2 linked regions of the Homo sapiens genome follow. The protein of the gene in region 1 interacts with the protein of each later gene in a biochemical or structural test. Each region holds a gene or a part of one and is shown on either strand. Other genes may lie near its edges.

Region 1 (4,816 bases):
CTAGGACAAGTGGCTGGTACAATGGCCAATTAAGAGGCACTTTTATGAGGAAAAACATACTTTCTGCAAGATAGATCTCTAGTGACCGATCCACCAAATGCCTTCGCTCTACTCTGTATGTGGCATCTGCTGCTACTTTGCTGATGCGTTAAATGATGTCCTATCTCCTGGACACACAAGCTGCCACTGGGAAGGGGCTGGGAACCTACATTGCTGGTGTCACTGATACTAATGGTGTGTGTAGGAGTCTTCCCCACCTTAGGTCTTTCTTACACTTCTTCAATAAGACTTTCTATAAAGGCAGAGCAATACCAGAGCAGAGCGAAAGCCCTGCAAACACCAGCCAGACGCAGGGGCCCGAGGAGCTGAGGAGCTGAGGCGCCGGGGTTGGGGAGAGTAGGACAACATTCGGCCAAGGCAGCCACATCCTGTTCCTGGACAGCCACAGTGGCAATGCGCCAGGAGGACGCGGGGATGGCTCCACACCCGCTGCCAAGTCAAACACGGGGCACTCCAGGCAGAATGAGGGACTAATCTTCCCGACTGGTGTAAGTAAAACCTCCTGGTGAAGGTCACAGTCTTCAAAAGCAGACCGAGGCAGAGGCATCGCTGAGTCAGCAGTGAGAGATGGGAGCGTGGAAACTGGTCTCTTCATGGAGGAAGTGACCTGTTTATGAGCAAGAACAAGGCCAGGAGAAGGCCCACTCCCCGCAAGCTGTGAGTTGACTCATAGGGGCCATGGGACTGTCCCAGGTGATGTGAGCGATCTGGAGCAATACCGGTGTACTCTGCTTTTGTTTAAAATGAATTAAAATGAATTAGGGGCTTGGGGAATGAGCCAAATGGGCAATAATTACACGAATAGGCCATGTCTTCCCAAGATGCCACCTCACTGGCTATCGAATCTGTGAAGCCGCTGTCTCCTCATTTCTTCTGGTGAGAGATGAAACCCGTAGGGTGGTGGGCTATTTCTGGTATTTCCTGTAGTGAGAAAGCCAAAGGAAAAATCAATCATTCTGACGTGACAAGGCATGTGTACCCTAGGATTCCAAGGGAACAAAGTGATAGCTTGGGTGTCATCTTCATTTTAACACAAAACAGAAATATAACAAAGATTTTTCAACTTCAGCTGTCAGTACTAAATTTCAACGTCAAGTAAATATTTTTAGAGTGGTTCAGCCATGAATCTGATTTGACTCATTTTGAGGCTTCTTGATAATCTTCCCACTTGTATTTTTCCTTCCATCGTGCTCCATAATTTGCATCATTTAGGCTTACACAGTATCTCAAGGGCTTATTGTCTTTTTTTTTTTATGCCCATATATAACTTGTTGCCACCTTTACTAACTTCCCCACCAACTAGGCTGGTTTGGCTTCTTCTGATCAGCCTTTGGGTGCTCCTTTTCTTCCCTCTAATGTGCCGCCTCCTGCCCCAATGTGGCCAATAAGAATCATGCGTGATTGAAACACACAAGCAACCACTGGAGCAGAGTTACCATACTGATCAATATCTGGGCAGGTAAACAAAGATGTAGGCATCATATTTCAAGATCATATGAAGGACTGTGGAAATCGTTACTGAAAAGAGTTTCTTAGGGATGCAAACTTACCAAAAACACAGTTTGTAATGATACAAGAATTTCAATCACTACATAAGAAAGCATTCTCCCAGGCATCATGAGTAGTAATAAAGGGAGAAAAATACATAGTCCTTGATCTCAAGGAACCAGCAACCTAAAGGTAATGAAAGAGCTTCAATATTCCCCATGAGGAAACCAGGAAGACACATCACTGATAGATACGGGTAAGTAGAGGTTTACTTCTAAGCATGGGGACCAAAAAGGCTGTACCTTTTCACTACTATAGCTCTGCTAACCTTGGTAATTTGCACTGAAAGGCTCTCTCCCATCACCTACATCAACCAGAAGTCTTACTCACTCTTGTAATGCTAGGTCAACCCCGATAGAACCAATGGAAGAACTCTTCCCAATTCAAACTCTTCAGCTTTCGGCACCTTCCGTTTGTTTGTCTTCATTCAATCATCACCACATCCTGCCAGATGTGTAGGCATTTCTGCACCACTCTGTTCTCTCCTACCAGGATCATAAGCTCTAAAATGGTAGGGGACCCCCTGACCTATCTCCCTCTCCCCAGCATCTGGGACAGTTCTGAACACACAGTAGCTGTTCAATAAATATATGGACTTGACTCAACAGCACCTGCTTATGACTTCCAATGCTGCCCAGTGAGGTTCTGACACAACTCATTGCCCATGAAGGGAACTGCATGGAGGAATTAGAAGAGGCAGACTGGGAAGGTGCCCGCAGTCCAGCTCTCAAAAGCAGCAGCCAGCACACATGGCCTTGGACCCATTTGCAGAACCCAAATGTTCTGGCAGCACTAGCCTGGCTGGGAAGGGAGGGTGGGCAAAGCACAGTTAAGCCAGGAGGGAAAGCAAGTAAACAGTGGATCCCTCTTGCTCATTGCCCAAGAGTGGCACCTTTTCAAAGATGTGTCCATCTATGCATAAGCTGACATGGCAACTGTTAAAACCATAGTGAAAAGATGTTAGAGAAAGCAGTGGGAAACGGAGTCCGTCTTTTCAATCCACAGCTGAAGTTTCCGTTGTCAAAGAGAAATTCAAAAAAGCAGTCAAAGCCAACCCCTTTTTTATATTTTTGCTTCTCTACTGATGAAGATCCCAGTGCTTCCCCATAACTGATTCTCCTTTCCTGTTGAGAGCATGGGAGAATTATACCTCCCCAACCCCTGGTACCCTTCCTGACTAGAACACCCCAAAATAAACACCCCAAAAAACGTTTTTGCCATATGTATTTGTAAAGGAATCTCTCTTTGTTCAAAATGGTAAATGCTTTGAAATTACATATTCATGAATCAAATCACCAGTAGTTGATTGCTTAAAACTGTTTTATATGATGAGATCCAAATTCTCCTTTGCCTTTAACAGTTGTTTTTAAAAAGACTGGTCTTAATTGCACTTGTGAGTGCAGGCCAGGACTTGACACCTCATTCCAGATGGCCTGGGAACTCTGTTAGAACTAGCTGAGGGCAGAGTCAGAAGCAAGCTCGACGTGGCACCCTGACTCCAGGCCACAGGGCAGAAACCCATGGAGGCTGAAAGACTGCTGAGACTCCCAGAGGGAAACACAGAGTCCTCTGGTGTTTTCTTTAGCGTTTCTTCAAAAGAAAAAGCCCGCAGATTAATAATTTCCATGAAGGGAACTGCCTGGAGGAATTAGAAGGGGCAGACTAGGAAGATGCCCGAGGTCCAGCTCTCAAAAGGAGCAGCCAGCACACACGGCCTTGGACCCATTTGCAGGGCATTCGAGGAGAACCAGGGCTGAGCCAACCAAAGAAATGCCACATGCTGAAGTAGAAAACTCATGTCATGAGAAGAATAATCATCACACTCTTCTTTATAAAGCCCTTTCAAGGTACACTTCTCCACTTAGCTTTCACTCCCAATAGAATCATCTCAGTTTTGCAGAAGAGGAAACAGAGGCTCAGAAGGTGTTAGGGACACATCTGAGGTCACTGAGCTAGCATGAAGAACAGCGAACCTTCTGAGTCTTTTCCCACTTCCCCACGTGGCCATCGGTTCTCACACCGCAAGTGTTCAGGGTTGCACCTCTCACCATTCCCGCCCTTCCTGCCCAAACCCAGTGTCCCTTTTCTTCATGGATATGGACATGTGGGAAGCTCACTGCTATCTGAAAACAGAAAAATAAGAAGTTCCAGTCTAAGTTCTCAATTCTGTGGGACTCTGCTGATATCAAAGACGTAACTCTAAAGTTCCCACGTGGGTCTCCTTAAATTCCACTGGCTACTAGCATGGTTCGGCTTTCTAGAACCAAGAAGACCTTGGGTATAACAATACAACCCAAACCACAATAATGCCCGATTTGTAATCATGCCAGCTCTTAAGGGTATTTTAAATCCTTCCAACTCAGTGTTATTGATACAAAAGCCATCTTACTCTCTGAAGAATGGCCGAATTGCTTTGTTTCCAACTCTGAAAACTACACTGTTTTGAATATGAGTTGATCTGAGGAGAATGTTTTTAAGCATAAAAACTTATTTCGAAGAGAATCACAAAGTTGATGTCAGCCCCTAACCTACACCGACTACTGTGTGTGTGCTCTGCGTTGGAGCCACACTCGGCACAAGGCTTCCTGGCTGTCCACTCAGTCTCAGGTACACTCTGTCTTCTACTTCCCCACCTTTGCATTCATGTGTCAAATTGTTTCTATAGTTTCCACTTGTGTCATATGATCTACTACCTCTCTCCTTAACCTCCAGCATCCTTTGCAGGCTTTCTCGAAGGGTCTTATCTTTGTGTTTCTGATATGTACTCACATTTGTTCAGCACACAGGAAAGAATCTGGACAAGCTTCCTTGGGGTGGTAGGAGGTGTCCCCATGAGTGTAAAGGAAAAAGTATTAGTAGGGAATTAGGAGATAGTTTCCCAGCTCTGCCTGGGACTCGTGGAGACACCCTTCACAAGATGCTTCATTTCAGCAGTGTCCAGTTGACTCATACGTGAGAGGAGGCTACTGAAAAAGGGGACTTCCAGGGTCCTTTCCATGATTCTGAAGTTTGACAACCTGTGATTAAATCCCAACTCCTCCACTTTTTAGCTACACAACCTTGAGCAAGTAGGCTACCCTCTTGCTCTTGGTCTTAGTTTCCTTATCTATAAAATGGGAATACTGAGTAGCTCCTTTGTTGGGTTGTTGAAGGATTAGAAGAGATAATGCATATAAAATGATTAGCTGAGTGCCACATGACAGTAAAT
Region 2 (3,500 bases), on another chromosome or scaffold:
ACAGGATGAGTGTTATCTAGAATAGTAGTAACCCAATGTTCTATCTGAAAGTTACTTGGCATGTGTGCGTTCTCTGTCTTCAAGTCCATTTTGGGGCAAGGTGGTGGCAAACTGCACAGCCCTTGATTTTCAGGGACTGACTCCGCAATCAGAACCATGCAACAGAAAACGGCCTATTACTGACTTTCTGCAGGCTTTGCTCATGGAATGGGCCTGCGCTGGTTTTTGATGTGAGAGCCAACTTCATTCTGCAATGACAGAGTTAAGACTGCCCGTCAAAAAACTATTTTCTTTTGTAATCCCAGCACTTTGGGAGGCCAAGACGGGCGGATCCCGAGGTCAGGAGATCGAGATCATCCTGGCTAACAGGGTGAAACCCCGTCTCTACTAAAAATACAAAAAAATTAGCCGGGCGCGGTGGCGGGCGCCTGTAGTCCCAGCTACTCGGGAGGCTGAGGCAGGAGAATGGCCCGAACCCGGAAGGCGGAGCTTGCAGTGAGCCAAGATGGCGCCACTGCACTCCAGCCTGGGCGACAGAGCAAGACTCCGTCTCAAAACAAAAAAAAAAAAAAAGGCAAAAAAAGGCCGGACGTGGTGGCTCACGCCTGTAATCCCAGCACTTTGGGAGGCCAAGACGGGCGGATCCCGAGGTCAGGAGATCGAGATCATCCTGGCTAACAGGGTGAAACCCTGTCTCTACTAAAAATACAAAAAAATTAGCTGGGCATGGTGGTGGGCGCCTGTAGTCCCAGCTACTCGGGAGGCTGAGGCAGGAGAATGGGGTGAACCCGGGAGGCGGAGCTTGCAGTGAGCCGAGATCGCACCACTGCACTCCAGCCTGGGTGACAGAGCGAGACTCCATCTCAAAAAACAACAACAAAAAAAATGTTCTTTTTGGTTCCATATACCTGCAAATAAACTGAAAACCAATGAACTGTACACTTAGGTAAGTGAACTGTGGTATGTGAATGACATCTCAAAAAGGCTGTTAAAAAATGTTCTGACTTTATTAGCTAAAGTAAAAAAAAAAAAAAAAATCACAAAAAAGAGGAAATAAAAGTTCCTGTTTTGCTGCATAAATCATGATGCTGATGTCATCCAGAAGAATTATGTCTGTTCAGGAGGACTTTGCAAGGTTTGTGCAGATGCAGTTTAACCTGGATTTTTGTGGTCATATCTATGGAGCTGGGATCAGGAGCCAGGTCCCGGGGCCAGAGGGACTTTGAGAACTCACTTGGAACAGGGGCTGATCACAGTCGGCGTGGGTGGGTAAACCAAGGCAACATTTACTCGCTCGCTGCCGTTCTTGGGGCAAATGATCTCTGCCACTCCTTCCGGTCTGGGCTGACTCAGCAACTCCCCTGTAGGAGGAGAGAGAAAAACGTGTTAGGGAGATGTGCACTAAAAATGGGCTCATTTTACAAAGACAGCACTGCCCGGGGATGGGGGCAGGGGGAGAAGGGCAGAGGTGAAGCAACGAAGGATGTGAGAACAAATGTGCAACCAAGAACAGCAGAACTGCCTGGGCGCCGGCTCCAGCGCCTAAATCCTCCTCTGCGTCACCGTGGAGAAAATTTTCATGGTTATGGCAGGAAGGCCCACACTAGACAAAGACAGCATCTGTCACTGCTCTGCTCACCTTCCTTTTAACAGACTGACTCCAGGGATCTTTATCTAGATATCAACGACTGAGCCAGAGTCCCCAGAGCCCACCGAAGCAAGGGCTGCCAAGGAGGTGTTCATAATTAGGATTTGGGGCAGATGGGACTCAAGCAGACCACAGCAACCATTCAACAAAGCCCTATATAAATGATCTGGAAACACAGCAGACTAAAAGTGTTAAAAACACAAACAGCCTAAGATCAGCCCAGCCTCCTCTGGGCAAGGGGATTGCCCTGATAGGTATGTGTGAAGCAGATGCACGACACAACACTATCTAACGAGTCTAGCAAAAACACATAATTAACCTAATGGATCACCACAATACTTAAAGGAACGCTATTACTCTGCATGCCCTGGATGTAATCTCTCTTCAACTAGATCATTACATCTCTAAAAGCAGTGATGACTTCCATTCTCTCATCCATATACCCAGGGCACCCTGCCCTTTCTCAGAGAGTACTCAAGAAACAGCTCCTGGCTGCAGATGGGACACATTATTGTTCAAACTGCCCTACTTAAACCTAGGAACTAAATTTTTTGTTGTTGTTTTGGAGACAGGCTCTTGGTTTGTCACCCAGGCTGAAGTGCAGTGGCCTAATCACAGCTCTCTGCAGCCTCAATCTCCCAGGCTCAGGTGATCCTCCCACCTCAGACTCCCAAATAGCTGGGACCACAGGTATGCAGCACCACATCTGGCTAAATGTTAACCTTTTACTTTATTTTTGTAGAGACAGGAGTCTCGATATGTTTCCCAGGCTGGTCTCAAACTTCTGGCCTCAAGCAATCCTCCCACCTCAGCCTCCCAAAGTGCTGGGATTACAGGTGTGAGCCACCATGTCTGGCTTCTAGAAAGTCAATTAACCAAATCAAGGATGTGAAATGTACACCAACTGGGGAAAGACACTACTGCAATTACAACTTCAACTCTCTGCACCAACCACTTCTACTGCTGACTTGAAATTCTAGAGACTCCGGGCTGGGCGCGGTGGCTCACACCTGCAATCCTAGCAGTTTGGAAGGCTGAGGCAGGTGGATCACAAGGTCAGGAGTTCGAGACCAGCCTGGCCAATAAGGTGAAACTCCACATCTACTAAAAATACAAAAATCAGCTAGGCATTTGTGGCAGGTGCCTGTAGTCCCAGCTACCCAGGAGGCTGAGGCAGGTGAATCGCTTGAACCCGGAAGGCAGAGGTTCCAGTGAGCCCAGATTGCGCCACTGCACTCCAGCCTGGGCGACAGAGTGAGAATCTGTCTCAACAACAACAAAAAAAAAAAAAGAAAAGAAATTCTAGAGACTCCAAAGAAGAGCAGTCCCCCCTTATCCCTCAGACATGCGTTCCAAGACCCCAGCGGATGCATGAAACCGAGGACAGTACCGAAGACTATACAGACTATGTTTTTGCCTATAAGTAGATACCTATGATAAAGTTTAATTTATAAATTAGGCACAGTAAGAAATTTACAACAATAAATAGGACAATGATAATATACTGTATTAATAATTAAACTTTTATGAATATGGTCTCTCAAAAACTATTATTATGCTGCATTCACATGTATTTGGACCACAGTTGATTGCAGGTAACTGAAATCACAGAAAGTGAAACCATGGATAAGGGGACCACTGTATCTGCTGACGTATAATGATATGAAATTCCTTTGCTTCAAAGTACTGTATTTCTGGCTGGGACAGTGGTTCATGCCTCTAATCCCAGCACTTTGCGAGGCAAAGACGGGTGGATCGCTTGAGCCCAGGAGTTCAAGATCAGCCTGGCCAACATGGTAAAACCCAGTCTCTACTAGAAATACAAAAATCAGCCAGGCATGTTGGCGGGCAC

What was found. The genes of interacting proteins can lie anywhere in the genome.
Region 2: the proteins of RHBDD1 (region 1) and MFHAS1 form a complex in vitro, tested with the Homo sapiens proteins (one large-scale study listed by BioGRID and IntAct).

The regions. Positions count from the first base shown.
Region 1 is NC_000002.12:226,991,596-226,996,411, reverse strand, and holds part of RHBDD1 (rhomboid-related protein 4), read right to left. Parts: intron 982-4,816; coding exon 890-981; 3' UTR 1-889. UniProt on the Homo sapiens protein: Intramembrane-cleaving serine protease that cleaves single transmembrane or multi-pass membrane proteins in the hydrophobic plane of the membrane, luminal loops and juxtamembrane regions.
Region 2 is NC_000008.11:8,796,131-8,799,630, forward strand, and holds part of MFHAS1 (malignant fibrous histiocytoma-amplified sequence 1), read right to left. Parts: intron 1,362-3,500; coding exon 1,235-1,361; intron 1-1,234. UniProt on the Homo sapiens protein: Probable GTP-binding protein. Functions in innate immunity and more specifically the inflammatory response as a regulator of the Toll-like receptor TLR2 and TLR4 signaling pathways.